Linked DNA regions of Homo sapiens. The protein of the gene in region 3 interacts with the protein of the main gene of each other region in a biochemical or structural test. Each region holds a gene or a part of one and is shown on either strand. Other genes may lie near its edges.

What was found.
Region 1: the proteins of SETD7 (region 3) and L3MBTL1 form a complex in vitro, tested with the Homo sapiens proteins (one study listed by BioGRID).
Region 2: of the proteins of SETD7 (region 3) and KLF4, one has a biochemical effect on the other in vitro, tested with the Homo sapiens proteins (one study listed by BioGRID).
Region 4: the proteins of SETD7 (region 3) and RIOK1 form a complex in vitro, tested with the Homo sapiens proteins (one study listed by BioGRID).

Annotation. Positions count from the first base shown.
Region 1 is NC_000020.11:43,524,192-43,532,468, forward strand, and holds part of L3MBTL1 (lethal(3)malignant brain tumor-like protein 1), read left to right. Parts: intron 1-4,465; coding exon 4,466-4,554; intron 4,555-5,011; exon of another isoform or gene 5,012-5,072; coding exon 5,073-5,177; intron 5,178-6,092; coding exon 6,093-6,228; intron 6,229-6,606; coding exon 6,607-6,698; intron 6,699-8,277. UniProt on the Homo sapiens protein: Polycomb group (PcG) protein that specifically recognizes and binds mono- and dimethyllysine residues on target proteins, thereby acting as a 'reader' of a network of post-translational modifications.
Region 2 is NC_000009.12:107,485,867-107,493,971, forward strand, and holds the start of KLF4 (Krueppel-like factor 4), read right to left. Parts: upstream 3,904-8,105; 5' UTR 3,307-3,903; coding exon 3,302-3,306; intron 3,185-3,301; coding exon 3,064-3,184; intron 2,402-3,063; coding exon 1,429-2,401; coding exon of another isoform or gene 1,327-1,428; coding exon 1,162-1,326; intron 61-1,161; coding exon 1-60. UniProt on the Homo sapiens protein: Transcription factor; can act both as activator and as repressor. Binds the 5'-CACCC-3' core sequence. Binds to the promoter region of its own gene and can activate its own transcription.
Region 3 is NC_000004.12:139,504,348-139,511,306, forward strand, and holds the end of SETD7 (histone-lysine N-methyltransferase SETD7), read right to left. Parts: 3' UTR 1,691-6,959; downstream 1-1,690. UniProt on the Homo sapiens protein: Histone methyltransferase that specifically monomethylates 'Lys-4' of histone H3. H3 'Lys-4' methylation represents a specific tag for epigenetic transcriptional activation.
Region 4 is NC_000006.12:7,405,884-7,414,160, reverse strand, and holds part of RIOK1 (serine/threonine-protein kinase RIO1), read right to left. Parts: intron 3,776-8,277; coding exon 3,710-3,775; intron 2,830-3,709; coding exon 2,710-2,829; intron 1,273-2,709; coding exon 1,219-1,272; intron 1-1,218. UniProt on the Homo sapiens protein: Involved in the final steps of cytoplasmic maturation of the 40S ribosomal subunit. Involved in processing of 18S-E pre-rRNA to the mature 18S rRNA. Required for the recycling of NOB1 and PNO1 from the late 40S precursor.

The DNA.
Region 1 (8,277 bases), on a different chromosome or scaffold from region 3:
TAACTTCATGAGACAGATTTATTTTGATTTTTAAATTTCATTAATTTTAGCCATCCTCCTTTTCTAATATGTTTATTTAAGGCTGTCATTTTCCTCTAAATACTGCTTTGGCTGCATCTCAGTTTTTGATACATAGTTATTTCCATCGTTGTTCTTTTATTTAACAAATACTAAGTGCCTCCTATGTACCAGATAGTGGGCTAGATACTAAGAGTTCAGAGTAAGCAAAACACAGTACTAGCACTTAATGAGCTCATAATCTAGTTGCAGAAATAGATATGTCAACAGATTATTATGTAACCATATAATAAGTGTTATGTTTGAGGTATGTAAATACAAGGGGCTGTCACAGAACAAACTCTGCCTGCTGGAGTATAGAAAGGTTCCATGGGGTAGATGGGATGATATTCATCCATCCATCCACTCATCCATCCATCCATCCTTATAGTCATTTAACAAGCATTTGTTGTGCATCTATTTTATGTAAGTCTTGTGCTAGGTGCTGGAACTATGGCTACGTCTTGAAGGATGTGAAAAAAATAGGCTAATAGAACAAGGTGGGGGTGGGATTTTAAAGCAGAAGTATCAACCTATGCAAAGGCACAGAGGCTCAGGGGCATGGAAATGCATGATGAAGCTGGCATGATGGGGAGTAGCTAGTTCACCAAGGCTGTGTGTGGTGTGGAAAGGTGTTTAGATTTTGGGGTTTTGGGTTGGAAATGAGAAGCCATGGAACTTAAAGAAAATAAACACGTTTTTTCATTTGATATGTATTCTGGCAGTAGAATAAGTGTGAGGCAGAGACCAGTTAAGAGGCTTTTGGACTAGGCTCAAAGCAAGGACAGTAAATGTGGAGAGATGGATATAGATCCAAGAGATAACTAGGAGTTGGAATCAGTAGAATGGAAGGATCCTGGGGAGTTAAAAAAAAAAAAAAAGGCATAAAGTATCACTTCCAAGTTTCTGGCTTGCGTGACTGGATGAATGGATGGTGGCGCCATTGACTAGGGTAACGAATACCGAAAGGGCCACAGGCTTTGGCAGAGAAGTTACAAGTTTGGTTTTAGATCAGGCTGAGCTTGCCAAAGAAAGTGCTATCCAAGAGCATCTGGTCTAAGGAAGCAGGAATAAACAAAGGAGCATTTCTGGAAGTGGAGAGAGGATCAGTGCCACCGCTAGCCAATATGGTACCTTTGTACAAGTTATTAAAAAAAAAAGCATCTCTCCAGGGCAGACCAATTAGAAAAGGGCAACCTTTCTTCACAGTAGACTCAGCCACTTGGCTTGGCAGAAAGCCCAGGATGGATTTTAGCCCCATTCACACCCTTGGCTGGGTACCTATGTATAGTGCACAGATTATACAACCATACACAGGAGCCTTGGGACTTACTTGGGTTTAGGGATATGCCTAAGAGCTCAGCCCATTGTTCAACAATAGAAAAAGGAGGCAGGAAACTGAATTTGGCTGGGGGTGTTGGTCAGGGAAGGAATCTAGTAATTGCTGAAGGATTTGGTGGTCAGGCCTCTTTCCAGTGGATTACATTGAATCTTGTCCTCACCCGTGAAAGGGGTTACTATGAGCCCTCCCTATCATCTAAGGGCATTATGAGGACTCAAGGAGACCATGTATATGAAGTCTTTCCGGCATCTCTGTACCCCCAATTTCTAGTACCAGACATGGCACACAGGTTTAACCATTAAATGGTAAAAGGAATGGTGAAGGTCAAATGAAGAGGTGCATAGTGGTAAACTGAAGAATGTATACTTGGTAAGTGTTGTGACTAGTGAGCAAATATGAAGATAGTACAGGCCCAGGGAGGGACATCTTCAGGGGACCAGTGGTAAGAGATAATGGCAGATAAAGAGGGTGTTGGTCAGAGGTGTCTGCTGTGGCATGGGGGTCTCAGAGCTTGGTCTCTGGAGTATGGGTAAAGGGAAGCAAGCTGAGAATTGAAGCACCAAAGAGCAGCAGAGGCGCCTGAGACAAGAAATCTGGCAGGTAGTCAGCCCCTTAGCTGATGTTACGGTTTGGGAAGAGTGAGGCAAAAAGAAGAAAGTCATCCAGGGAGGAAGAAATGGCTGTTGGGAAGGGTTCTGTCATAGTAGAAGAGATTTGGGAAAAGTGAAGAGGTCTTATGCATGATGATGTGGAATCCCAGTGGCAAGAAGCAGCAGGATGATGGCATCCTGAAGTCTACTCTCTCTTCTCTTTGCCCTACTCAGTAAGAATGGAGGAAGACTGAGTGGGAGAACTGGAGGGTTTCTTGAGGGAACATAGTAGGTGATATGTTATACTCAGGACAAAGGATAGCCGGAAGAGATGAGCTCTAGATTGGTTTCCGCGTAGGTCCTTGAGAGTTTGATAGCTTGCTTGATCCATTGATGAACAAAATATCTGTTGTGGCCCAACTGGATCAGGCAGTTGAGATCTCAAGGTTTGGTACAGTGTCTGAGGAATTTAGGCAGCTGCAAGACAGGTGCTTCTAGGCCGAGTGCGGTGGTTCATGCCTGTAATCCCAGCACTTTGGGAGGCCAAGGCAGGCGGATCACCTGAGGTCAGGAGTTACTGGCCAACATGGTGAAACCCCGTCTCTACTAAAGATTTAAAAAATAGCCATGTGTAGTGGTGGGCACCTGTAATCTCTACTCGGAGGCTGAGGTAGGAGAATCGCTTGAACCTGGGAGGCAGAAGCTGCATTGAACTGAGATTGCACCACTGCACTGCAGCCTGGGCGACAGAGTGAGACTCTGTCTCAAAACAGACAAACAAAAACAAAAAACAGGTGCCTCTAGCCACTTAGGTCCCAACTAAAGCAAAAAGGGAAAAAGCATCTTCCTGAGAGACAGACCACTCCAAGCCTGAATTATCCAGGGTAGTAGCCAAGAGAAGCAGAGCTAGAATCCAGTCCTACAGCCTTAGTGAAGACCCAGGAAGCACTGGTAACAGAAGTCCAGCACTCTGTATTTCATAAGGATCTTTTATACATAGATCTGACTTAATCATCATAGTGATCCTGTATGGTGGGTATCTGCATTTCACAGATGACAAAATAGAGGTGTAGAAGTTTCTAGAAGAAGCTGGAGCTATTTACCTAAGGGATATGAATTGATTCTTGTGAGTTGTTACGTCTTTAGTTGTCTGTAGCCTTCGACTGGAGGCAGCTCATGCTAATCTGGTCAGCCTACATGTAACTGGATATTCTAGCCTTTAAAGGGTGTTTGTCCTCTGTTAGAGGCTAGGACTCCACCTCAGGTTAGATTGAAGGTGCTGCAGGAGTATTCATCTCCCTCCCCAGGACCCTGAGACTTGGAGGCATGGACAGGACCTGGGCTGTAGGTCCTGACCATAGTGTATGTGTGTTAGTGTATGTGTGTGTGCACATAGGCTGTGTGTGTGCACATAGGCTGTGTGTGTCTGGGAGGGCTGTGGAATCAGTATATCCACTCTGGGGGTACCCATCAAGCACACATATACACATTTGTGTAAGTCTCTGTAAGTGTTCAGGGGAAGAAGGATCAAAAAAGTGTTTCTTTTTTTTTTTTTTTGAGACAGGGGCTCCCTCTGTCACCCAGACTGGAGTGCAGTGGCATGTTCTCGGCTCACTGCAGCCTCCGCCTCCTGGATTCAAGCAATTCTTCTGCCTCAGCCTCCCAAGTAGCTGGGACTACAGGCGTGTGCCACCACGCCTGGATAATTTTTGGTTTTTTGTTTGTTTTTTGAGACAGAGTCTTGCCCTGTTGCCCAGGCTGGAATGCAGTGGTGCGATCTTGGCTCACTGCAACTTCTGCCTCCCAGGTTCAAGCAATTCTCCTGCCTCAGCCTCCCGAGTAGCTGGGATTACAGGCATGTACCACCACGCCCAACTAATTTTTGTATTTTTAGTGGAGACGGGGTTTCACCATGTTGGCCAGGCTGGTCTCGAACTCCTGACCTCAAGTGATTCACCTGCCTCGGCCTCCCAAAGTGCTGGGATTACAGGCGTGAGCTACCATGCCCAGCCGTGTTTCTTGTTTCTCCCAACCCTTCCACTTCTTCCTATTTTCATGTTTTCTCTCTCATTTCTCTTTTTCCTCTCCTTTCCTTGTGAGTTTAGATGGCATTGTGATTAAGTTCTCTGGCACAGGACTTGTCACTCAGCTTTGTCATGTCAGAGGACAGGGTCCCTCTGTGGCTGAGACTTTGTAACTTCAGTCAGTTGCTGAATAATCCAGAGTACTTCTGCTGACAGTGGCCTGAGCGGGTGGGGGGGAAGTGACGGGCAGAATTTGGTGTAGCCACACCTGAGACTGAGCCTCCCCTCAGCCCCGTGTCTGGCACCATCATGGTGGGTGGGACCAGAGGGTACATGTGAACACAGACAAAGATTTGTTTTGGGGGTGAAGGTAGAGCTTGGTCAGGGGAAGCCGAAGAAAGTCATATATCAGGAACAGCCCAGGAGTTAGCCTGTCTGTCCCCTTTCCACAGCAACAGGTGAGAAGAAGGAATGCTGGTCGTGGGAGTCCTACCTAGAGGAGCAGAAGGCCATTACTGCTCCAGTCAGCCTCTTCCAGGACGTGAGTTGGACAATTTCCCCGTAGGAACAGCTTGTCTTCCTAGCCTAGGGACACACCACCAACCTCAGGCCTTCTGGCGTTTTCTGTGTCAGGCATGCCTCAGTGGACTGGCAGAATGGAAAGGGAGAGACTGTTTAGGGGCCCAGAGTGGAAAAGGGCCCCCCATAAGGGGCTGGCAGGGTGGGAAGAAACAGAGAGGTGGAAGCTAGGCTCACTCATCACTGGGCCTGCAGACTTTTGAATTCTGGTGACTTCTACTCAATTCAGCATTGATCTTTCCATGACTTTGGTGAGAGGGAGCCCTTGAGTCCAGCCCTGACTCACCCACATTTTTCAAGGGACCTGGGAGATATTCTCTCTCTCTCTCTCTAGATCCCTGTAGTAACGATCCCCAAATAAGTTGCCCCTTTGGAAATACCAGGCGGGTGGGGCCTAAAGGCAGCTCCTTCACCCCAAGCCCACTAGGCAAGGATAAGGCTGGATGGAAGCTGGGTCCTCTCCACTCTGTGCGTTGACAGTCCCAGGCAGTCACTCACAACAAGAATGGCTTCAAACTGGGCATGAAGTTGGAAGGCATTGACCCTCAACACCCGTCCATGTACTTCATCCTCACCGTGGCTGAGGTGAGCTGGGGCTTGGTACCACCTTTCTGATGATGTCTCTCAGTGCAGATTGATGGATCTTGCTGGGGACATAGAAGGAAACACCTCCCTCCCCTCAGAGCACACACAATCTAGTAGTGGATGAAGCTGGAATACATAGAAAGCTTAAAACAACAAAAACCAGATGGAGTTCATGGGACAGTCCTATTATTGGATGAATGTATACTGTCCACTCTGGGGGAGCTTGAGGAGATCCCGAGGGCCAGGGATGTTGGCATGAGTCAAACAAGGTCCTTGTCCTCTAGGAGCTCACAGTTGTCTGGGGAATCAGCCAAATAAACATGTCAGTGACATGCCACAGGGGTGGCAGCAGACTTGAGCTGGGAGGCACAGTTGGGTCAGTTCTGTCTGAGGAGCAGCAAAAGCATAGAGGAAGGGCCTCCTTTGCAGAGTCTTGAGAGATAAGTTGTGAATAAGGAGGGAGCTCCAGGCAGAAGGAGCAAAGTGGGCAAAAGCCCTGGGGCATGGAACAGACTGCTACCTTCAAGGAATTGCCACTAGCTCAGCAAGACTGGAAGCAGAGTGCGAGTGGGGAGCAGTGAGAGAAGGTAGCAGAGGGAGCGGTCATCAGGAGCCCTCAGCAGTCCTGAGCCTTGGTGGCTGCCCTCAGAATTCTGTCCAGGGCTCAAAAGGGCAGGAAGCTGTCATAGGGTCCACCTCCCTTGCATCCAGAACTCAGGGCTCATGAGTACATGAACTGTCCTCACTGTAGAATAGGACAGGGTGGGGTACAATTGGGAGGAAAGAAAGGTGGGGTTGGGGAACCTGCTAGCATTAGAGCCCCTGAGACCACCAGACTGGGCCAGGAGAGGTGAGGCAGATGGGGAGTGGGGCATCTCCTGACATTGGAGTTCCTGATTCCCCTCATGGGGCCAGGTATGTGGCTATCGCCTACGCCTGCACTTTGATGGGTATTCTGAGTGCCATGACTTCTGGGTCAATGCCAACTCCCCTGACATTCACCCTGCTGGCTGGTTCGAGAAGACGGGCCACAAGCTGCAGCCTCCCAAAGGTAAGGCCTAGCTGGGTTGGTCACAGTGAGGCAGTGAGTCCTCAGACCCTTCGCTTCTTCCCCTTGGGTCCCCGGCTTCCAGCTCTTTTGTTTTCTGACCCTGTACCCTGTTCCAAAGCCAGCCTCTCTTCATCGCATCCTGATGACTCTGCGCTGGGGCCAAGTTGACCAGAAGCCCTAGAACTTCCGCTTTGCACTTGCCCTTTGAGTGTCTACTCAAGTCGTGTCCTGCTTCAGTAGTGGGGAATCCCTGGGCAAGTTCTTGAGGGTTGGGGGGAGGTCCTCAGGCATGCCTGATTCTGCTGCTTCACTGTGGGGTGCCCTTGCTGTGGCCCAGCCTCTGCACGGCGCTCTGTTCATGCCCCTCGAGGGGCCTAGGTTACAAGGAGGAGGAGTTCAGCTGGAGCCAGTACCTGCGCAGCACAAGAGCTCAGGCTGCCCCCAAGCACCTGTTTGTGAGCCAGAGCCACGTGAGTGCCCCTGAGTGAGAGTGGATGTCACTCCCATGTGCCAGAGTTCACTGCAGCTGGCCCAGGGTATCTGACTCATCAGAAGGGAGCTCATGTGCTGGTTCTCTCAGCTTTGTTCTGATCTCTCATATCAGATGGGAGGGGTACAGCTGGGCAGGGTCCAGGGCCAGAGATGGGAAGCTGGTTATAGGTTTTTCCCGACTTCCCTCCCTCCTTTGCTACTGCAGATACCCTGTCCTCACATCCCCTTGGAGCCCCTGGCCCACTACCCTAGTCTGAGCACTGAGATGTCATTGCTCATATATTCTTGCTTTGGCTTGCTCTGCAGTTCTTTGGTGTAAGGTCAATGCCTCTATTCTGGGAGCTTCTTTTTCTTTCCTTTTGCCCAACATTGAGACTCTTCCATTTATTTCCAACAATTCATCCCTTGTCCTTTCCTCTGTTCAGGGCAGCTGGCAGCTTATCCAGCAGTTAAAGTATCTCATAATCCCAACCAAAAGGCCTAAGAGATACAGGGAGCCTCCATTAAAAATATCATACTGGACCAGGTGTGGCGGCTCATGCCTGTAATCCCAGCACTTTGGGAGGCTGAGGCGGGTGGATCACCTGAGGTCAGGAGTTCAAGACTAGCCTGGGCAACATGGTGAAACCCCCATCTCTACTAAAAATATAAAAAATTAGCTGGGCGTGGTGGTGGGTGTCTGTAATCCCAGTTACTCAGGATGCTGAGGCAGGAGAATCGCTTGAACCTGGGGGGCGGAAGTTGCAGTGAGCCAAGATCACGCCATTGCACTCCGGTCTCAGCAACAAGAACGAAACTCCGTCTCAAAAAAAAGAAGTATGTATCAGTCTTACTGGCTGGGTGCGGTGGCTCACACCTGTAATTCCAGTACTTTGGGAGGCTGAGGCGGGAGGATCACTTGAGCCCAGGAGTTTGAGACCAGCGTAGGCAACATAGTGAGACCCCATCTGTACAAAAAATGTCATTAAATTATTAGCTGGGCATGGTGCATGTGCCTGTAGTCCTAGATACCACAGTAGCTAGCTGAGCTGGGAGGATTGTTTGAGCCCAGGAATTCAAGGCTACAGCAAGCTATGATTGTACCACTGTACCCCAGCCTGGGCGACAGAGTGAGACCCTGTGTCTAAAGAAAAAAAACCATATTGAATGTCTAGAGTTTCCCTGGGCCCAGGACTCCACCATGCTCTTCAGGCAGAGACAGTTACTCCCCTACCCCAGTCCAGCCCCAGAGTTCATACTTGCAAGTTCCCAGGTGACAGGTGGGGTCCTGCCTGCTGTTGTGACAACGAATGCCGACTTTTAATTCAAACTATTTAAATACTGGCCCCGCCGTTGACTAGCATTGTGTTCTGGGCCAAGTGATTTAACTTCTTAAATGGGAATAGGGTTGTTGTAAAGGTCCAAGGAGGTGATGTCTTTTGAAGCTTACATGGCAGGTACTCAGTTTATACTGGTTCCCTGTCTGCCTCTATGCCATAGATGTCCGCTGTTTCTTCCCAGCCACCCCACTGTTGCCACAACTGCCTCAGGACAAGCTGGGAAGGGCTTGTCTGGGTA
Region 2 (8,105 bases), on a different chromosome or scaffold from region 3:
CATCTGAGCGGGCGAATTTCCATCCACAGCCGTCCCAGTCACAGTGGTAAGGTTTCTCACCTGTAAAGGTAAAAGAAAAAAAAAATTGACGCTATTGCTATATCAAAGAATCGCCCCTTTTAAAAACTGAAGGCCAGATAGTAAACCAACTCTGACCCTATCCTAAAGAAATCCAGGAATGTCTTTATACCACTGAAGGGGTGTATTGAATTCCATATCATAAACAGAAATACATTCCGTGCTTAAGTATTTGGTCTTGTTTTTAGGGGGTCAGTTAAGCACACAACCACCACCTACACCTATACTAATGTTTCACCAAAAACACACAAACACCACCTAAACCTATACTAATGTTTCATTTGAGTCAAGGCATCTCAGTGGTGGAAATGAAATTTGGAAATTGTGATTGGTAGTGTGCCCAAACCATGCAATCTTATTCCTACTACGACTGGGGATAAAAAGCCACAGGTGGCTACTTTTTTTTTCTTTACCTTTACGTTACTGAATGCTGCACCTAAACGACTTTGGGTACCTACTTACATTGACATGGAAATGCTCTGCAGTGACAACCCTAAATCAGAATCTTCCCAGCAATTTTGACCATCATATTCTTGGAATTTAAAATAAAACCTTCTGCTTGTGGGGGAAAAAAAATAAAAATGTAAATCAAAACGAACAAAAAATAAAAAATAAAAAAGTAAGACCGAATTGTTACGACCAGAATTCAAAATAACAAAAAGGGAGGGTGAACCTGGGAAGGGAACATTAAAAAACGATTTTTTTAAAAAAGCCATCATGCTTTTGCATAGCAAAGTATAATTTCTTGATTATAATGCCAAGCTAGGAGAGGCCCACAGACCGCGGGGAATCTCCTGCCTTTTAAAAGCCTAACAAAATTGCACATTCAAACACAGATACCATCCATCAAGCAAAAGGCTCCTGGGCAGAAAAGTAGGCGCCGGTTTGCTGTTCTCTCCAGTGATCCCGGAGATCAAGGCGATAGACTGCCCTGGGAAGCCAAGGAGGCACTGAGGAGTGTCCACTGGTAGCCTATGGGGCTGGAAGCTAACCTGGGAAGTCAAGGAGGCACTGAGGAGTGTCCACTGGTAGCCTATGGGGCTGGAAGCTAACCCCCCTCCCTTCTGCAGTTTGTCCCCCTACCTGTGTGGGTTCGCAGGTGTGCCTTGAGATGGGAACTCTTTGTGTAGGTTTTGCCGCAGCCCGCGTAATCACAAGTGTGGGTGGCGGTCCTTTTCCGGGGCCACGATCGTCTTCCCCTCTTTGGCTTGGGCTCCTCTGGCATGCAGGAACCGGGTGGCATGAGCTCTAGGGGTGAAGAAGGTGGGGTGAGCATCATCCCGTGTGTCCCGAAGTGGGGCCAGCACACACAGGGCTCCCCAGCCCGAGCTACAAATCCCCGGGACTGACCTTGGTAATGGAGCGGCGGGACTTGCGGCTGCATCTGATCGGGCAGGAAGGATGGGTAATTGGGCCCCGGGTGGGGATGGAAGCCGGGAGGAAGCGGCAGGGCAGGGTGACAGTCCCTGCTGCTCAGCACTTCCTCAAGACCCAGGGTCGGGGTAGTCCTGCTGGGGAGCTGCCGCCCCAGGGGGAAGTCGTGTGCAGCCGGCCGGTGGCCATTGCTGAGAGGGGGTCCAGCGCCCAAGTGGGTGCACGAAGAGACCGCCTCCTGCTTGATCTTGGGGCACGTGCGCGGCGGCCCGCCGTTGTAGGGCGCCACCACCACCGGGTGGCTGCCGTCAGGGCTGCCTTTGCTGACGCTGATGACCGACGGGCTGCCGTACTCGCTGCCAGGGGCGCTCAGCGACGCCTTCAGCACGAACTTGCCCATCAGCCCGCCACCTGGCGGCTGCGGCTGCTGCGGCGGAATGTACACCGGGTCCAATTCTGGCCGCAGGAGCTCGGCCACGAAGCCGCCCGAGGGGCTCACGTCGTTGATGTCCGCCAGGTTGAAGGGAGCCGTCGGAGGGGGAGCGGACTCCCTGCCATAGAGGAGGCCTCCGCCCGTGCCGCCCGGCGCCACGCCCGGGTCGTTCCCGGCCCGGATCGGATAGGTGAAGCTGCAGGTGGAGGGCGCGCTGGCAGGGCCGCTGCTCGACGGCGACGACGAAGAGGAGGCTGACGCTGACGAGGACACGGTGGCGGCCACTGACTCCGGAGGATGGGTCAGCGAATTGGAGAGAATAAAGTCCAGGTCCAGGAGATCGTTGAACTCCTCGGTCTCTCTCCGAGGTAGGGGCGCCAGGTTGCTACCGCCGCAAGCCGCACCGGCTCCGCCGCTCTCCAGGTCTGTGGCCACGGTCGCCGCCGCCAGGTCATAGGGGCGGCCGGGAAGCACTGGGGGAAGTCGCTTCATGTGGGAGAGCTCCTCCCGCCAGCGCTGCGGGGACAGGGCGGGAGAGACCTGTCAGTGGTGGTCCCCTGTTGCCACCCGACATACTGACGTGCTGGCGGGCCACGCGCGACTGCACCGCCCAGACATGGGGACTGGTCAGGCAGGAAGCACCCGGGAACCCAGGGCGCCAGCGCTGCAATCTCGGCCCACTCCCGGGTCGAAGAAGAGGTGATGCGTCTGTATTGCGGGTGTTATGTCCTGTCTGCCCAATTGCGTGTGAGCGAGCGCCGCGGCTGGTCCCTCCCCCTCCAGGTCCCGTGGACGTCCCCGGAATTGGCACACCGAGGCTCTCTCGGTGCGCTCTCGCCACGGGGCCGCCTACGCGCTAAACTCACTCTGGCCCAGCCAGTGTCTGGGGACGCGGCCACCTCCCGCCCGGTGGCCCGAGAGCGCCCGCCCTACCGACAGCGCGCCCGGGGACTGGTGAAGACCCGGCTTGCGCCCCAGGCGGCTCCGCAGTGCTCGCACCACGGGCATACACAGCTGAGCCAAGGACACGGAAGCTATCCCGGGAAGGTTGCGGAGTCCGCGCGGTGGCCGCTCCTTACCCTCGTTCAGTGGCTCTTGGTGACCCCAAGGCTCCGCCCGCCCCCACCACACCCACGAAAACCCACCGGGCGTTCCCGGCGGCCCGGAGCGATACTCACGTTATTCGGGGCACCTGCTTGACGCAGTGTCTTCTCCCTTCCCGCCGGGCCAGACGCGAACGTGGAGAAAGATGGGAGCAGCGCGTCGCTGACAGCCATGTCAGACTCGCCAGGTGGCTGCCTGCGAGCAAGGCAGGGAGCGGAGACAGGAGAGTCAGGGGCGGCTTTCGGCCGTCGTTCCGGCGCGTCCCACCGGTCCTCACCCCTCCCTGCTCCCAGCGCCGCGCGCCTCACCTACCTCATTAATGTGGGGGCCCAGAAGGTCCTCGGCAGCCCGAAGCAGCTGGGGCACCTGAACCCCAAAGTCAACGAAGAGAAGAAACGAAGCCAAAACCCAAAACCCCAAATTGGCCGAGATCCTTCTTCTTTGGATTAAATATAACTTGGAAGCGTCTTTTTTAAAAAGTTCCTTTGTATACAAAAGTTCTTAGAAAAGTTGTAAACGCAAAAATAGACAATCAGCAAGGCGAGTAAGTAGGTCCGGTGGCCGGGCTGCGCTCTCTTCCACTCAGCAGCGTCCCCCACCACTGTCGCGGTCGCCTCGAGTGCTGCCGTGGGCGCAGGGGCTGTGGCCGGGGCGGTGGGCGGGCGGTGCCGCCAGGTGAGACTGGCTGCCGTGGCGCGGAGCTGCGAACTGGTCGGCGGCGCAAGGCGCGGACTCCGGTGAGTTGTGTGGAGCGCGCGCGGCCATGGGCGCGGGCCACGGGCGGGTGGGAGGGTGGGGGGCCAGAGGGGCGGGGGAGGGTCACTCGGCGGCTCCCGGTGCCGCCGCCGCCCGCCACCGCCTCTGCTCCCCGCGCGCCCGCAGACACGTTCGTTCTCTCTGGTCGGGAAACTGCCGGCCGCCGGCGCGCGTTCCTTACTTATAACTTCCTTCGCTACAGCCTTTTCCTCCGCCTTCTCCCATGCCCCGCCCCTCCCTTTCTTCTCTCCGCCCCCCCCGAGGCTCCCTTCCATCGTTGCTATGGCAGCTAAATCAACAAACTCGGCGCACGTGGGGGCGGGGGAGGGGAAGGAGGGGCGCGGGCGGGGCTGGGCCGGGCCGTGACGCCAGCCAGGCAGCTGGCGGGCTGGAGCCGAGCTGACGCCGGCGGCAGTGGTGTCGGCGGCGGCGGCGGCGTCCGCCCCAGCGCGGGGCGCGAGGAACCGGGCGCAGGTTCGGTCGCTGCGCGACCAGGGCCGTACTCACCGCCATTGTCGGCTCCCTGGGTTCGAAGCCCGCGAAGACTGGTGGGGTCAGCGGGCGGCACGGTCACGCGTCCGCACCCCTGCTAGCATACGCGCTTGCCGCGCTGTCTGCGCGCTGGAGAAGAGCGCGATTATCCGCGTGACTCATCCAGCCCTCCATCTCCCCCTCCCTCTCTGCGCTCGCAGGAGTCCGCTCTCGTCGCTCAGCGCCAGTGCCGGTGGCGGTGCCGGCGCTCGGCCTGACCTCGCACGGTTCCTCGCGGGCCCTTCTGCTGAGGGGTGGGGGGCGCTAGGGGTGTGGAGAGGAGGCAGTGCCCAGCACTGTGCAGCGTGAACTGGGAGCCTCAAGAGAAGGCCAGAGGAGTGTTCCGCCGGGAACAGGCGGAAAGAGGCACGAATGGGGAGTTATGGTTTTGATACTTTAAATAGCGAGAAAGGGAGTGAAAGGGCTCAAGATTTACTCAGAGGCATAAGGGAGAGAAGAGGGACTGTGAGGCGCGGAGACAGTTTTCAACCAGCCATCTCGAAGCCCTTTCCTTTTTTTTTCTTTCTTTTTTTTTTTTTTGTGAGACAGAGTCTCGCTGTGTCGCCCAAGCTGGAATGCAGTGGCACGATCTCAGCTCAGTGCAACCTCCGCCTCCTGCGTCCAAGCGATTCTCCTGCGTCAGCCTCCCGAGTAGCGGGGATTACAGGCGTGCGCCACGACGCCGGCTAATTTTTGTATTTTTCGTGGAGACGGGGTTTCACCATGTTGGCCAGGCAGGTCTCGAACACCTGACCTCAAGTGATCAGCCTGCCTCGGCCTCCCGAAGTGCTGGGATTACAGGCGTGAGCCACTGCCTGTAATATTTGATGACTAAATTGCACTGTAGAATAATAATAATAATAGAAGACACCCATTAAAGAAGAATTAAACACTCACTGATGACTTTTCAAGCCACGCACTCTCCTTTCCACTTTATGGATGAGAAATTGAGTCATAAAGAGGTGAAATGGCCAGTAAAGGTCAAAGGACAACTCGTTCCTTCGGCTCAGGCTCCGGGTAGGTCAGGCCCCCCTAAAGGGACTTCCCTGGGAAGTGACCATGTGCCAGGAAGTGGAGCGATGCGGTGGGATCCTAGCTCTCAAAAAGTGCACACCGAGCCCGCCGCAGGCGTCCTTGCCCACCGGGAAGGGAATAGGAAACGGCGATCTTTACTTCAATCTTATAACGCTGCCTCCCCCACCCCCACTCTCCCCTTGGTTTGTGATCAGTAATTTTCCAGCTGGGAAATGTTTTGCTCTCATCTTCTTAGCAAACAGTATTTTTTTTTAAAACGTGAATGTGGTGTTCGGTATCACTTTCTAAACGTAGGTTTGGCGAGGTGTTTACTTTGGATTCCGGCGTTCGGCGCGGGACTCCGCCCCCCTCTCCACGGAGCCCCCTCACCGGCGAACGCTGGCGCTTAGGCTGGTGTCAACCTAGGAAAGAGAAGAGAGGGGACACTGGGGAAAGTGGTGGAAGCTCGGGCACCGGGCAGAGAGTGCGCTCACCCCTTTTTGAGTTCTAGTTGCCAATGTCCTTTGTCGTTGTCACCTGTTTGAACCCTGCGATTCTGGTACCTATTAGGTTTCCTCAGAATATTTGTGATACCTGATTTTTCCACTCCTCGCCGACCACAGAAGCATTCTTGGAATGCATCTCGCCCCGAATGAATTGACTCGGCCCTCCCTGCCAACGCCAGGAATCCCTCTAAGATCCAGAGTCGGACGCCCTTGAGTGTGACTTCCATCCTCTAGCTTGGCTCTGGCCAAGGGCTGCCAGGGTTGCAGCTGGGGGATGAGAGTGTTTTGGCAGGGAAACCGAGGTCCTCCTTCCTATGACCTCGAGGAGTTCAACCCCACCCCCCTATATAGGATCAGGCCAGTTACTTTAACTCTGATTTTTACTTTAAGCCCTTTTCAAACGGAGGAACCAAAAAAGGAAGACACCTGCCACTTCCTCCCCTACTCCTTTAATTGTGATGGCAACATCTTGGGATGCTGTGATTTGAGGGCTGCATGGGAAACTCACCACTTTTTCAGGAAAGCCAAAGTCCCTCACCCTGGATGAACAGTGGATGAGCCCTTGATTGGCAGCCATCTCCCTTGGGATGTAAACGTGGGTCAGGACTTGGAATTTCCAACTTAGGTAGGCAGCACACTAGATTATTTCTGCTTTACTTTTATTTCTCTAAGGCAGTAGCCCTTCCCCCTCAAAAAAAAAACTATCTGTAACCACCACAATGAAAAAACAATATTGCACAGAAGAATTGGAAAGCCACCATTATTATGTCACATAATCAAGACAAGATTCTGAAACTCGATTGAAAAAGATGAACTTGTTTCCAACCGGCCTTCTGAAGGATAAAAGCCAGTCTCTCTTCGTGGCAGGCAACTAGCTGGTTATTCCTCTGATTGCGTCACAAAGGGAAATCTGTATATTCACCCCAGATTTCTAAAAGAAGCAAGAAACTTCAAGTTCACAAATCATCTCTCAAGGCAGGTGCCCTGTATGACAACAAGGTTATGGCCCTCCCTGTCTTCAGAACAGGTAGGGCCAGAAGACTTAAATCCTTGCCCTATATAATTTATAAACATGAGGCTGAGTAAACCTTTGATGACTAAATTGCACTGTAGAATAATAATAATAGAAGACACCCTTTAAAGAAGAATGAAACACTCACTGGTGACTTTATTTCAGCAAACTGATATTACTAGTTTTGTGGACTAGAAGTTAATTATTAATGTCCTTGGAGTTATAAAATAATTTTTTTTCCAGCACAAACTGCATTAGTTGTCAGAAGATGTGATGAACACCATTAGTGCTAGGGGATTAATGTGGAGCCATGGAGGGGTGTGATAGACTGAAGAAGCTGCATCCATGTTTCAAATGAAAGATTCAGCACCCATAACTGGGTATGGGGTCTGGACACATAGAGCACCCCGTGACCTGGCTGCACCCTGGCTGGGTGTCTCTGCATAACTGCCGCAGGACTCAAGAAAAACTCAAAAAAAAAAAAACTTTTTTTTTTTTTTGAGACAGAATCTCACTCTGTAGCCCAAGCTGGAGTGCAGTGGCGTGATCTTGGCTCACTGCAACCTCCACTTCCAGGGTGGAGGTGGAAGCAGTTCTCATGCCTCAGCCTCCAGAGTAGCTGAGACTACAGGCGCGTTCCACCATGCCCAGCTAATTTTTTGTATTTTAGTAGAGATGGGGGTTTCACCATGTTGCCCAGGGTGGTCTCCAACTCCTGAGCTCGGGCGATCCACCCGCCTCCGCCTCCCAAAGTGCTGGGATTACAGGCATGAGCCACTGCGCCCTGCCTGAAAAACTGCTTTTTAAAAAAGTGAAAACAAGAGATAGATTTTAAGTACCCGAATTGCTTTGAAATGAAATCCCTGCTAATAAATAACTGTAAAAGGAGCTTGCAGCTTTCACAAGGTGGCAAAGCTTTTCTCAGTCTCCACCCTCATCTCCTTGTGAACTCCAGCCTCTTTTTTTTTTAAATTTTATTATTATTATACTTTAAATTCTAGGGTACATGTGCACAACGTGCAGGTTTGTTACATATGTATACATGTGCCATGTTGGTGTGCTGCACCCATTAACTCGTCATTTAGCATTAGGTATATCTCCTAATGCTATCCCTCCCCCCTCCCCCCCGCCCACAACAGTCCCCAGTGTGTGATGTTCCCCTTCCTGTGTCCATGTGTTCTCATTATAGACCAATGGAACAGAACAGAGCCCTCAGAAATAATGCCGCGTATCTACAACTATCTGATCTTTGACAAACCTGACAAAAACAAGCAATGGGGAAAGGATTCCCTATTTA
Region 3 (6,959 bases):
ATGTCGTGAGGGAATTACCATGATCTATCTGTCTATCTGTCTATCTATCTATCTATCTGCAAGGTAACAGTCATTTTCTGAAATACTTTTGGAGCAGAAACCCCTTTTCTGTTTTTCCTTTTTTTTTCAGCTTCAAGAGGAGGAATGGAATTTCTTCTTCTTCCTCTTATTTTTCAACTAGAGGCTTCTTATTGAACAATCCCAAATCAGTCAGATGCTGAATTGAAACTAAATGAAACTACAGCATAAAGTCCTTCGATAGCTGTTACCTAGTTCTAGAGATGACTGCTGAAACAATTTCACATTTAATATAAACTAGCAGTCTGAATGATTCCAAACATTTAAACCCAAAGGCAGATATTGGTAACCATCCCATTAGTATAGCTGGGATGGTTACTAATTTGGTCTAACATAATTTTGTCTTAATTTTCACATTACCTCATTCTACAACATTTGGGCCCAAATCAATCATCTTAACCCATGAAAGTTGCCCAATCTTTCACTTTCAAGGTTAGCTTCTTAAGCTTCCCTCAGTCTGTATTAAATTTTTAATCCTGTATTCCCCTTTCCCACAAGGAAGAAGAATATTAATATTGTGATTTGACCCATGCGTGTTAGAGGGTGAAGCCTTGCCTGAAAGATCTAGCATGTGAATGTGTCTGTGCAGGTGGAAAAGCTGATCCAACATCAGTTTGGACCCAGTCATCTCACTCGTTTCTGTTTCCTTCCTTCCATGGAAGGAAGTGTGATAAAATCAAGGATTGGGCAACTGAGGGAGGTAAAATAAAGCAGGAGATCTCATGGCCTGCTTCAGTTTGAGGCCTAACTGTGCCTCGTGTAGCCCTGCCAAACTTCCTAGAATTCACTTCTTTGGGGTCCTGGGCAGAAGGCCCAGCTAATAATGAGGTACTATGTTGACTCCTTTTGTCACTGGCTTTTGTGCTTTACAAATGTTGACTGGCTGGGCACGGTGACTCATGCCTGTAATCCCAGCACTTTGGGAGGCCAAGGCAGGCAGATCACTTGAGGTCAGGAGTTCAAGACCAGCCTCGCCAACATGGTGAAACCCCGTCTTTACTAAAAATACAAAAATGAGCTGAGTGTGGTGGTAAGCGCCTGTAATCCCAGCTACTTGGGAGGCTGAGGCAGGAGAGTCGCTTGAATCCCGGAGGTGGAGGCTGCAGTGAGCCAAGATTGCACCACTGCACTCCAGCCTGGGTGACAGAGTGAGACTTCATCTCAGATTAAAAAAAAAACGGAAATGTTGACTGTGATTAGGGCAGGAATAAGGGATTGCCAGGGTTCTCAGCTCAGACTCATCCTCAGACTGCCAAAATCTACCACAACGTCTAACAAAATTTCTATATTTTCTTTAAATCATGAATTGAAGTTTCCTTTCAGCTATTTGCCCTGATCATCTCATTTGCATTCCATACCCTTACCATGTATGTATTCAATCCGACACTTTCTGTTGGTGTGGCTAATCCTTCTGGATTTATGGGTGTATGTGGAATCATATCAAATCCTCCGCTCTTACTAGAATGCTCTGAAAATGATAAATGGCTAATAATATTTTAAAACAACTTAAAATGTAAAGTTCACTTAGTAATTTAAATATACAGGTAGACACATTATAAGAAAACCATTATTGCTTTTCTAACCTAGATGACCAAAGGAAGACAATGACAGATGATTGTATATTTTGTTTAATACTTGCATTGTTTCTATAGCGCAATTATAGCAATCTTTAAATTTACTTTCATTACAAATATTTGTCAAGTTTTGTTTCAGAAACATTTTTCCTACTCTCTTGCATCATGCACCCAGACACACTACAAAAAACTCATTCATAACACAGTAAGGGCAAACATTATTCATGTAAACATCTTTCATTAATTTCCCATAATTTAAAAAAATCATAGAATTATAGATATTGAATAAGGCTCATAGTTTTAGTTCAAATTCCACAAGAGACCAAAGATGCTCGTTAACCGTGATGGGGTTAACTTTTGGTTGCAATAAATGCTGAAAGCATACCCCTGGCTTCTACTTCTTCAACATACCTCACAACCTAATAAATGTATTTCAGGATAAAGAGAGAACATAGAACACCCAGGAGGAAACTTTTGAAGAAGGGAGCTCAGAATCATGGACATAATTTTCCTATGTGATAAGCAGGTATTACGTAGTCCCTGTAGCTTCCCAATACATGAATCAAGGTTAATTATCATAAACCAAAATGTAACCAAGTAGATATGTTGATACATTGGCATGTGTGTTCGTATTGCTACTATACACAGTGAAAATTTATCCTAATATGTATCATTTCATTATATCCAGGACCAAAGTGGAAAAAAAACCCCACTCAAGTTGAATATCATCATAAAGGAGTTTTTGTTTGTTTGTTTTTTCAATAACATAAGAGTCAGGAGAGTTGGGAGGTATGTCCTAGGGATGTGATTGACTCTTGACATTTAACAACTTTGAACAACTGTGTGTAAAGTCACAGACAGAGGAAGCAAGGATTTTTGTTATCGGAGGACGTCTCTCTCTCTGGTTGGAAGTTTGGTGCTTGGGTGCATAGTCTTCCAGAGCTGAGACAGGAAATGTACTGTGCTGAGAAATGGGCCCCTTGCCAGATGCTCCCCTCTCCTTCCTCTCTGCGAGGCAGAAGTCAGAAGGTAGAGATTGCTGGCAAAACTGTGAAGTCCCACCCTGGGGTCTCAACCCCAACTCCACTGAGGGCAGCCTCCCTGACGTGTGTGACTAGGCAGTAAGGGTGGCGGTTGATGGCGGCCGGGAAACCGAGTTTCGAGGTTCACATGGCCAAGTCTGGCTTCTGATTCTGCTGCCCTGCAAAGAAATTGTGCTCCAGATAACTGCACCGGTGTCTCTAATGCCTCTGATTCACTCTCAGGCCCCTCAAAGGCCTGCAGTGATATCACTAAAAGGTGAACACACCTCCATTAGCACCTAACTTCCACCAGGAAGCGGCTGAGGCACTGGGGAAGCCTACGAGCTCTCTCCACGTCAGGTGCAACAACGCCGAGGAAGTTGCTGAGAGTCAGAGTTATTGTAGGCTTTTGATTTTTAAAAATCAAAATTGATCTGCATTACATCTCAATAGACTCAGATAATTCTCACCAAAATTTTTGTAATGTGTTTAAGTAGCACTGGAATAATTCAACTTCATTTAAATATATTCATTCTATCATGAAAATATTTCATACAAACATCTATTTACATACAAACACATTAAAATTTGTGAAAAGGGTTCCCACCCCTGTGGTTGTATGGCTTGAAATAGTTTCATTGCTTTGAATATGTACGCACACATTTGGCAAAAGAAAACTATTACAATTTAGTATTTTTAAAATTAAAAAAAGTGACAACGAGTTTCCAAATTCCTGAAGGGAAAGATAAAAGAAAAACAATAATAATCTATCAAGGTACCCCAAGTAGATGTAAATTTGATATACTTTGTGAACCTTTGATCTGTGGCAAATAAACATTACAACTGTCAGTCTTGCAACATAGTTTTGCTTGTTTTTCTAAAACAAAAGATATCTGGATTCTAAGTCACTACTCTTAAGACAGAAGCTTGAGGCAACTGTTTTAAAACAAAGCAAAACAGAAAATGATACCTCTACCTTCTTGGAAGATTTTAAATGCATGTTGCAGTGAGTGATTTAAATTTTTATATATTAAATGAAATTTACGAAAAGTGCCACATACTGTCTCCTGGAGAAGACAACCCTTTAATTCACTGTTCACAATTAATGCAATTTTAATAGTTATATTTAAATGTTAAAAATTGTTACATTTGGCCTCATTGGCCTTTCTGGGTGGGTCGTTGGTGATAAGGAAATAGTTTTTCGAGTGTGAAGAACCCCCATAGGGCAAATAGGTTTAACTACAGTCCTAGACAGGTTCAAAGAGCTCTTGGAAAACTAATTTCCTTCTTAGTGTCTCAGGTAGATCAAGGATGAAGCAAGTTAAAATAAGAATAGGTACTACAAGACTCAAGAACTCCTCACTGCTTTCTTTTTGATCCCATCATTCCTTTGTGTCGGAAATTCAGTCTTTCCAGTTGTTTTTGTTAGTCCATTCAAATGTCCATTTGGGGACATGCTCCTACAGGTTAGTTCCTATTCCTAACTCTAACACAAGATAATATTTCATCACAGAAAAGATGCTAAGGGAAGATCTGGTCATGCAGGAGTTGGACTGAGACAGCTCTGAGTGAATCTCCTTGAGATTACAGTGTCGCACACACACATAGGCTCCCGCTGTTTTTCAGGAGAGCATAAAGTTATTTCTTTATTCCCCACCACATGGAATCTTCCACGTCTGCTGTGATTCTGATGCGATGAAATGACCAGATGCAGCGGCTTCCTGACACATTTCCTTCCCCAGCAGATGTAAAGTAGAAAAATACATTCTGAGTATTCTTTTCCACTTGCGTTTAGGTTCAAACGGGAAACAAACCCTTCCGTCCTCAGCTGTTAATTCCTTATAGAACCTCCACTCCCTTGACTTCTTTCCCTACCTACAGAACTCAGTGAATCTCAAGCCTTACTCCGATTCCAACCTGCCACAGAGCCTTACATTTGGGAGTATGTGTGTGTGTGAGGGGAGGGGTGGGGAAGACAGAGCCAGAGACATAAGCAAACAGAGAGGCACACACAGAGGAAAAGCCAGATGAGCAGAGTCCCAAAGACATGCACAGAGCCAGAGAGACTCAAGAAAGGTCAGTGCAGGGGACTTGGAACAGGGAACAGGAGAGGGCAGCTGGGGCTGCTGTTACCCAGGATGCCCAGGCGTTCTCACATATGCAGAGAGAAGAGGAAAGAGAGCCGGCCAGAGAAAGAAGAGCTGGAAGACACAGAGAGTATGAAGAGAGTTGGGAGGAAGACATGGTGAGGCTCAGCGTGGATGCATTGCTTCCTCTGATTTGCGTGGAGGTCACAGACACACTGCTGAGTTTTAAGCTCAGAGTGTTACCATTCAATATCTCATCTGAAGAACTGATTAGCAGACTAATCACTACTTACAACTCTTCAATTCCTTCTATCCAATGTTGAAAAAAATTCCATTTGAATGGGATAATTAGAGTAGCCCCCACTTAGGACGTAAATTGTACCCCACTGCAGCCAGGACCAGAATGCTATCACTCTCAGGAATGAAATCATTCAGAGCATAGCTGCATCGGGGGCATGACCAGCACTATCCTCTCCCTGACCGTATTCCCTGACCTGGCTGCACAACCCACTTGATCGAGGTTAATGCAAGCCATCTTTCTCCTGAAGACAGTCACTCCCTTTGGGCACATTTAAATTAAAGCACCTATCAGAATGCAAGTCCAGAGGCCCTGGCCCATCCGTCACAGTGTATAGAACGGTCTCTTTCTACAGAGTAAGAGTGACCCTATCCTGGTGCCTTTAAATCTAAAAACTATTCAGTTCCTTTGGTGGGCAATCTTCCTGGAAGCACTGACAACTTCCTCTCATGGGTGAACCATTGGCTTAAGCTTTCAAGCAGGGATCCAACTGGATCTCCCTGAAACCACTGCCACCTAGCTGCAAAGCATGCAACCGGGTGCTCTAGGAAGCCTGGTGTTGCAAAGAAGGGAAGGGCAACTCTGTCAATGTGCCCAAGGGCCACCTGAAATGAAAGTCATGAGCAGCCTGGGATTAAGCACTTTTGTTGTAGTCTTCATAAAGCAATGTGCAACTGACAAGAAATAGCAAACTTCCTTCTGCCTATGTCCTCACTCTTCTTCCACTGAAGCCTTCTCTCATCAGCTGGAGCTCACTATCTGCTACAGCTTGGAAGGCCTTCGCTTTCCAGACCAAACTGACTCAGGTGACAGGAATCACAGCTGACAGCTACAGATCAGCACAACAGCTGCTCTCCAGTCCTTCCAGCCGCTGCATCGAGGTGTCTAAAAGAGACAAAGCTATGGCATGTGGTGAGGGTGCTTATAAAAAACAAAACTCTCAGGATTCATTCAGAGCAATCCCAGTGATGTTACAGATCTAATTAGCTAAACTAAAAAAACAGGGGTTTTCTCCTTATTTCTGCAGTTGTGATTACACATGGCTGGCAAAATGGCTGAAATGCTATTGATAGTGTTGCTTTTAAACTATACAGGTGTTCAGTCTTAGTTTACAATGTTTTGAAGCAGGTAAGTGCTTTGAAATTACAATGATGAAGAGTTTTAGCATCAAGGTTTGATTTGTACCTAGTAATCAGTGTGTCTGCCTTAGTAGTACTGACTAAAAAAATTTTTTTTTGAATTCTGTTAGAATTCAAATTTGCTGTTTGACTTTTGAATTCAATGCACTGTGCCACAAGCCTGACCGCGCTATGTTATGTACATTTAATGTGTACTCAAGGAGGAAAAAATTACTAGCACTACTGAAAATATTGCAAAATTGCCATAGTTACCGCTTAGAGATACTAGTTTTCTTCTCTTCTTTCTTAAAGTATATATTACAACTCTTCCATAACTTAATGCAAACAAAGTAAATTCATTTCTTCTCACATCTTAAAGCAAAGATATCTTTGTTTACATGCGAGAATAATATTCTATAATAATACCCTGGCCCTATGAGCCAGTACTTTATATTAGGACATAATAATAAAATGATGATATAGAAAGAACCAGAGAGACCTACACACTGCTATTGATGCAAAAATCCATTTGGAAGTTTTCTCTTGTAAAGGGTATCTAAGAAAGAGAATAGGGCTGAGGGGTGAAATGACTTTAGAAGTGGGCTCCTATTTACTAAGAAAAAAACCAAAGCCATTCTATTGCAAGATACAGATCAAAGGTTAAAAGGCAAATTATACTACATTTAGAGAATAAAGATGTAGTAATTGTCAACCCTTAATACGGCACATATGCAAGTGTGCTAACACAATTTGCACTGGCCATAGGAAAAAAGCACTATGGA
Region 4 (8,277 bases), on a different chromosome or scaffold from region 3:
CCAGAATTCAGATTTTAGGCTCGCAAATATATGTTAAAAACTAACATCCTGTACTGAAACATCAAAACACCAGAATGAACATCAGGAGGGAAACATGAAAGTAGCCACTCCAAGTAAGGCTCCAGAACATACTCAAATGAAGGAACCAGGGCTTTACTGCGTGACCTAGATCAACAACAGAGCTGTTCTCCTTCTTTCAGCTAATCAGGAGCATTTAGTTGGGATTGGGAAAGAGGCAAAATATACATAGAGGTAGAAAATGAAGATTTATATGGATAACTTCACAGCTGTTTTCCTGTGAACCACATTTCTAGCAATAAACTAATCCAATTGGGAGGGAAAACAATATGTGAAGAAGAGAAATTTTCATTACTTCCTGAAATTCAGCAGTTGTCTAATACAGCGCTTCCTAGCAGTTTTTAAGAGTGAGGTTTCCCTTTTATAAGAAAAAAACAGATCTTTAGAAGTCAATTGTACAACAAGATTTTCTAGCTTGCTGCAATAAAATCTTCATGCTCTGGAATCCAAAGCATAACTTCCTTATGACACCTGTTATTATAACTCAGAAATGCAAAATACCAGAATTCCCCTAATTCAATTCTTTCCACAGAAAAGACATGATTTTAAGAAAGCAAACTGTGATCCTTTATTTAAGTCTTCAATTAGGAAGATTTAAAAAAATAAAGACTGCTTTTATGACTGCCTAAGTTAGAATTACTTAATCCCTGCCCTTCTAAAATGTAAAACAAAACAAGATTGTTTTAAGAAAAAAGAACATCACAGGAATCCAGCACAGCAGGACTTGCTGAACTCATGAGATTGTTCTTTAACAAGTAATACCCTGGTAGGAGACTACATTCCAAAGTTCTCCTAAGCTGGTTGTAAAACCATCAAGAAGCACAATGGCTATCATTAAGAGCTCCACAAATGACGACCAGGATACAAAAAGATAAATACCTCACCTGCAATCACTGAACAATTCAGAGACAGAAAGAAAAATAAATTAATTTCCAAATTTCAGTGCTGTGTTTAGAAAGAACACAAAAATGGCATTTCTGAAGATGTCCACAGACTTTGAAAGCAATTATAACATTTTAACAATATAAAATAACATTTAGTTCTAATAATATTAAATAATAATAAAAAACAGTATGACTAGAGTTTATATCCTTTAAAACTGTTTTCACATAAACAAACAGTAACACATGTTCTTCATACCTTCTGAACTCCTGACAAATCTTTCTTCAATCCTGTAACAGTCTGGTATAGAATCTTATAACCAAAATGAAAAAAAAAAAATAAGGATCAACATAAAACTAGACAATGAAATATGCATATTGCACTATTAAGAACAATGTGGGTTAAATAATGTCTCCTATGATTATAAAAAGGTATCTAAAATTAATCTCACTGTAACACAGGAAGTTTATAATATTGATATTATTTCTGTCTACCAGATCTACTGGCCAAATCCAACCAGCCACCTGGTAGTTGTTTTTTTTTTTTTTTGAGACGGAGTCTTGCTTTGTGGCCTAGGCTGGAGTGCAGTGGCGCGATCTTGGCTCACTGCAACCTCCACCACCTGGGGTTCAGGAGATTCTCCTGCCTCAGCCTCCTGAGTAGCAGGGATTACAGCTGCCACGATGCCCAGCTAATTTTTATATTTTTAGTAGAGACGAGGTTTCACCATGTTGGCCAGGCTGGTCTCGAACTCCTGACTTCAGGTGATCCACCCACCTCGGCCTCCCAAAGTGCTGAGATTACAGGTGTGAGCCTCCGTACTGGGCCTTTTTTTTTTTTGAGACAGAGTTCCGCTCTGTAGCCTAGGCTAAAGTCCAATGGCGCAATCTCAGCTCACCGCAGCCTCCGCCTCCCGGGTTCAAGTGATTCTCGTGCCTCAGCCTCCCCAGTAGCTTGGATTACAGGAGCACGCCACCATGCCTGGCTAATTTTTGTATTTTTAGTAGAGACAGGGTTTCACCATGTTGGCCAGGTTGGTCTCGAACTCCTGACCTCAAGTGATCCGCCCACCTTAGCCTCCCAAAGGGCTGGGATTACAGGTGTGAGCCACTGCGCCCAGCCTACCTGGTAGTTTTTACAGATAAACATTTGCAATCAATTTGAAGATAGCAAACACAAACTTTGAGCCCCAATTAAGTGAAATATTATCTGCCCCACATCAAATAATTCCACTCTTCTTTAGTATACTTGTATTACACAAAAGTGTATTCAACTATTATTAAAGTATTTCTAATTTCACGAATAAAAATTGAGGGTGAATTTTTTTCTCTCTTGTTACATAAGGACCTACGTAATCACCTCAATTTTGTTTCTTGGCTTGCAAAGCCTAAAATATTTACTATCTGACCCTTCACCAAAAAGAAATTGTTCCTGAATGATGTATGTTAAAGAAATATATGTTAATGGACCTAATATAATAACCATTAATAGCCTAGACTTCTATCTGAATCTTGTTTCTACAATTACAGCTTGTTGGATTCATTCAAATGTGTTACCTCCTCTCATAAATTCCAAATAATTCCCTTTGCGTTCAATGTGCACACAAGTTAACACAGATAGAGTTAGTCATTTCACTAGCTCAGAAGCCAATATTCAAGATTAGGGGAACTTAAAAGGCCCAGATAGGTTTGGGACAGTCCCCTACTACTTTTGAAGAGCTGCTTGCTATATACAAACCAAGCTACTTACATTATCTTGTTGGGCATTCATGGCCATGTCCTCTTCCTTCAATTTCATAATTATGTCCATATCCCTCTCATAATTTTTCACTTCATTCAAGGTTCTAGGAATATATGCTCGCTTAAACACCTAACAGAGAGGAAAAGCAAAATCAAAACTGTTATTCATACACTTCTCACATTCACACAGCATACTCCTCCATCAGGTTACAGGGGAATCTATATATTCATTCATCCCTAACACTGATGCTTGGCTAAGCTGTCTGCACACACTGGTATCCCATCTGTGATGTGGTGTCCCAAAAGTAACACTACTAATGATAGAACACTAAATTTTGCATATGATTTATTTTAAGGAAGGGAAAAAAAACATTAGAGCTGATTCAAGATTATCCTTAGAATAACACTTCTCCTTCATTTTTGTTCCAAAAAGCTTTTCTGAGCAGGAGGGAAAGGGGCGGAATTACAGTTGGCAAGCGCTGCCTGGCTATGCCTTACGAAACATACCCAGCTGCTACAGTGAAAAAGGTGGAGAGCTGCCGACAAACACAGGGCACCTCATAGTCAACCATTAAGAGTTGTGAGAATTTTTTTTAAAAGCCTACTATGGCTCCTTCACAAAAAAACACCCTGACTCGTTTTTATCAAAGCATAATATTTAAAATCTATAACATTTCTAGAATCAATATTTAAGTCATTTAAAAACTCACATTTGCAAATTAAAAACAGGCTTTTCCTTCTTGACGCCTATATCCTAACAGGCTCTTTAAAAATTTTCTCCATCTAGGACAATGGGCTAACAGGTTGCTGAGTGGACCAATACAGTGAAATGTAAACTATCCAACTTGGCTCACTTAAATCATTTACTATAATATATCTTAAGGAAATATTACCATCATTTGAAAAAGCTGCTTATCTATTTAAATCAAGTTTATGCTCTAGCAACATAAAAAAAAAAACCCTCAAAACACAAGTGTTTCCAAAGGCTGTGAATAGATAATAAATCCTACCTCTTCATCCACATGATCTTGGCTAGACCGTTCTTCCTTGGTCCTTTGAGATGCTATTTCCATGGCCTTGGAAAGAAAACAAAAATGACTTTCTTTTATATTCAAACTGCAGAAGGCACATCCATGTCCCAGTTTTGGTATAAAATTGTTCCAGTCTTTTTAAGTATCACCTCCTCACACTTAGGAAAGCATTTAGTGAGGTCTAATGGTACAAGTTAGCTTTCCAGCACAGACCTCACCAAAAAGGCTGCCATCAACCCAAAAGTAACAATAAATCAAACTCTTCTAGCCTAGGGGGATCCCTAGCCCCCCTTTTTCAAAAGTTATGCTACTTTTACTAAATTTAAATAATTAGCTTTTGCATTTAGTAAATGCTTTAGCATTTACTAAAGGAATACAGAGACCTAAAGAATGAAAGAACCATTCCTTAAATCCTGAGCAGTCGGCGAAGGGAATTGCAAAGGCTGGCTGTAAATCTTGAATATACGGCTTTATTGCTGCTGCACTGAAGAAAGCTCTCTGAGCAAACAATGACTGAAACGAGGGTGACAAAGATTCCAAAGGGTTCTTTTGGTTTGTAAAACTGAGTGTTCTCTTCTCTATATAGAAGAAAGGAAAAAATAGTGGGAGCAGAGGTTTTTTTTTTTTTTTTTTTTGAGTTTAGACACGAAAATCAGTGCTGACCCAGGCACAGTGGCTCACGCCTCTAATCCCAGCACTTTGGGAGGTGAGGCCAGCAGATCACCTGAGATCAGGAGTTTGTGACCAGCCTGGGCAATATGGGGAAACTCCGTCTCTACTAAAAATACAAAAATTAGGCCAGGTGCAGTCTAATTACAGGCTCATGCCTGTAATCCCAGCACTTTGGGAGGCTGAGGCTCACGCCTGTAATCCCAGCACTTTGGGAGGCTGAGGCTCACGTCTGTAATCCCAGCACTTTGGGAGGCTGAGGCGGCTGGATCATGAGATCAGGAGTTCCAGACCAGCCTAGTCAACATGGTGAAAACCCGTCTCTACTAAAAACACAAAAATTAGCCAGGCATGCTAACATGCACCTGAAATCTCAGTTACTTGGAGGCTGAGGCAGGAGAATCACTTGAACCCGGGAGGCAGAGGTTGTGGTGAGCCGAGATCGTGCCACTGTACTCCAGCATGGGTGAGAGAGCCAGACTCCATCTCAAACACACACACACACACACACACACACACACACACACACACACACACACACACACACAATTAGTCGGGAGTGGTGGTGGGCTCCTGTAATCCCAGCTACTGGGTGCCTGTAATCCCAGCTACTGGGGAGGCTGAGGCAGAAGAACTGCTTTAACCTGGGAGGCGGAGATTGCAGTGAGCCGAAATTGCACACTGCACTCCAGCCTGGGTGACAAGAGCGAAACTCCGTCAAAAAAATAAATAAATAAAAGAGGCCGGGTGCGGTGGCTCACACCTATGATCCCAGCACTTTGGGAGGCCGAGGCGGATGGATCACCTGAGGTCAGGAGTTCAAGGCCAGCCTGACCAACATGGAGAAACCCCATCTCTACTAAAAATACAAAATTAGCTGGGCATGGGGGCGCATGCCTGTAATCCCAGCTACTCGGGAGGCTGAGGCAGGAGAATCGCTTGAACCCAGGAAGCAAAGGTTGCAGTGAGCCGAGATTGCCCCACTGCACTCCAGCCTGGGCAACAAGAGGGAAACTCCATTTAAAAAAAAAAAAAAGAAAAAGAAAAAGAAAGTCAGTGCTAAGTTAAAAAGTTGAGGAATAAAAATGACACACTTATTTATTCCATTAACAGATGTGATTGCCTACTATGGGCCAGATATTGGGTACTTGGCAATAGAGAAAACTCCTGTTCCATAAAAGTTCATAATTGAGGGTGACAGAATTAGGGACTTAGTATAATAAGTGACACAGTGTGACTACTTCTATTATAGTTGTAGGAGACTACACCTATGAAAACAATTTCTGCTGAAATACCCCTCCAGAGAGCTTTCTAACTGGAGCTTTAAAGTTCACCAGGCGGAGCAAAGTTGAGCAAAGGCAGAAATGGGAAGGTATTGCAAGGAAATGGAAAAAGAGGAAAGGACAGGATAAAACCTGAAGACCTGGCCAGGCAAGGCGACTTATGCCTGTAATCCCAGCACTTTGGGAGGCCGAGGCAGGCGGATCTCCTGAGGTCAGGAGTTCGAGACTTGCCATGGCCAACATGGTGAAACCTTATCTCTACAAAAATACAAAAATTAGCTGGGCATGATGGCAGGTGCCCATAATCCCAGCTATTCAGGAGGCTGAGGTGGGAGAATCACTTGAATCCAGGAGGTGGAGGTTACAGTGAGCTGAGATTGTGCCATTGCACTCCAGCCTGGGCAACAGAACGAGACTCCATCTCAAAAACAAACAAACCTGAAAACCTGTGTAGAGGCATACATGCCATGTGTTCAAAACTCTATGATTCAGAGACAAAAATAAAAATAGATAAACTGGATCACATCAAAATTTAAAACTTCTGTGCATCAAAGCTTGCAATCAACAGAGTGAAAAGACAAGTCACAGAATGGGAATAAACATTTGCAAATCACGTATCTGACATATCCAGAAAATACAAACAACTCAACAAAAAAAACCAAACCTGATTAAAAAAAAGACATGGGGCTGGACACTGTGGCTCATGCCTGCAACCCCAGAACTTTGAGAGGCCGAGACAGAAGGAGTGCTTAAGCCCAGGAGTCTAAGACCAGACTGGAAAACACAGTGAGACCCTGTCCCAACAAAATGAAAAAGAAAAAAAAAATTGGCTGGGTGTCATGGTCTGCACCTATAGTCTCAGCAGGCTGAAGCAGCTGAGGCAGGAGAACTGCTTGAGTCTAGAAGGTTGAGACTGTAGTGAGACAGGATTGTACCACTGTACTTCAGACTGGGTAACAGAGAGACCCTGTCTCTTAAAAAAAAAAAAAAAGACATTTCTCCAAAGAAAATATATAAATGGGCAAGAAGCACATGAAAAGATGCTCAACGTCACTAGTAATCAGGGAAACACAAACCAAAACCATAATAACATACACCTCACACTCATTAGGGGGTCTCTCATTGTCAAAACAAAACAAAAAACAAAATAATAGGTGTTGGTGAGGGTATGGAGATTAGTAAGTGCTGGTGAGGATGTGGAGCGATTAAAACCCTTGTGCATTGTTGGTGGTAATGTAAAATGGTGCAGCCACTACAGTAAACAGTATGGTGGGTTCCTCAGAAACTTGAAAATAGAAATATCATTTGATCCAGCAATTCTACTTCTGGGTGTATATTCGAAAGAACTGAAAGCAGCATCTTGAAGAGATATTTATACATCCATGTTCATAGCAGCATTATTCAGAATAGCCAGAAGGTATAAGCAACCCGTATGTCCATCCACAGATGAATGGATAAACAAAATATAGTATATACATACACTGGACCATTATTCAGCCTTAAAAGAAGAAATCCTAGGCCAGGCGTGGTGACTCATGTCTGCAATCCCAGCACTTCGGGAGGCCGATGCAGGCGGGTCACTTAAGGCCAGGAGTTGGAGACCAGCCTGGCCAACATGGTGAAACCCTGTCTCTACCAAAAAATACCCAAATTAGCCGGGTGTAGTGGCTCGCACCTGTAGTCCCAGCTACTCAGGGAGGCCAGGGTGGTAGAATTGCTTGAACCCGAAGGCAGAGGTTGCAGTGAGCCAAGATCACGCCACTGCACTCTAGCCTGGTGACAGAGTGAGACCCTGTCTCAAACAAAAAAAGAAAAAGATATCCTGTCACATGCTATAACATGGATGAATCTTGAAGACATCATACTAAGTGAAATAAGCCAGACACAAAAAGACAAATACTATATGATTCCACTTATAAGAGGTACCTAGAGTAGGTGAATTCACAAAGACAGAAAGTAGAATGGTGATTGCCAGGGGATGGGAAGTTGTTACTTAATGGGTACAGAATATCAGTTTGGGATGATGTAACAGGTGTGGAGATAGACAGTGGTGATAGTTTGTACCACAATGTGAATGTACTTAATGCCACTGAACCATACATTCAAATGGTTAAAGCATTAAATTTTATATTATGTCTTTTACCAGAATTCTAAAAAATTCTATATTCAGAAAGGCCTCTGAGGCCGGGCGTCGTGGCTCACACCTGTAATCCCAGCACTTTGGGAGGCTGAGGCAGGTGGGTCACCTGAGGCCAAGATTTCAAGACTAGCCTGGGCAACATGATGAAACCCTGTCTCTACAAAAAATATAAAAATTAGCTAGGTGTGGTGGCGTGTGCCTGTAGTCCTAGCTACTCGGAGACTGAGCTGGGAGGATCACTTGACCCTGAGGGGCAGAGGTTGCAGTGAACCAAGAGTGCGCCACTATGTTCCAGCCTGCGTGACAGAGTGGGATCCTGTCTCAAAAAAGAAAAAAAAAGAAAGAAAGAAAAGAAAAAAGAAAAAGAAAGAAAAGAAAAAAAGAGAAAGGCCCCTGAGAAACAAGGGAAAAGAATTAATGACCAAAAAACTGACAGTTTTCTTGCTAAACTTTCA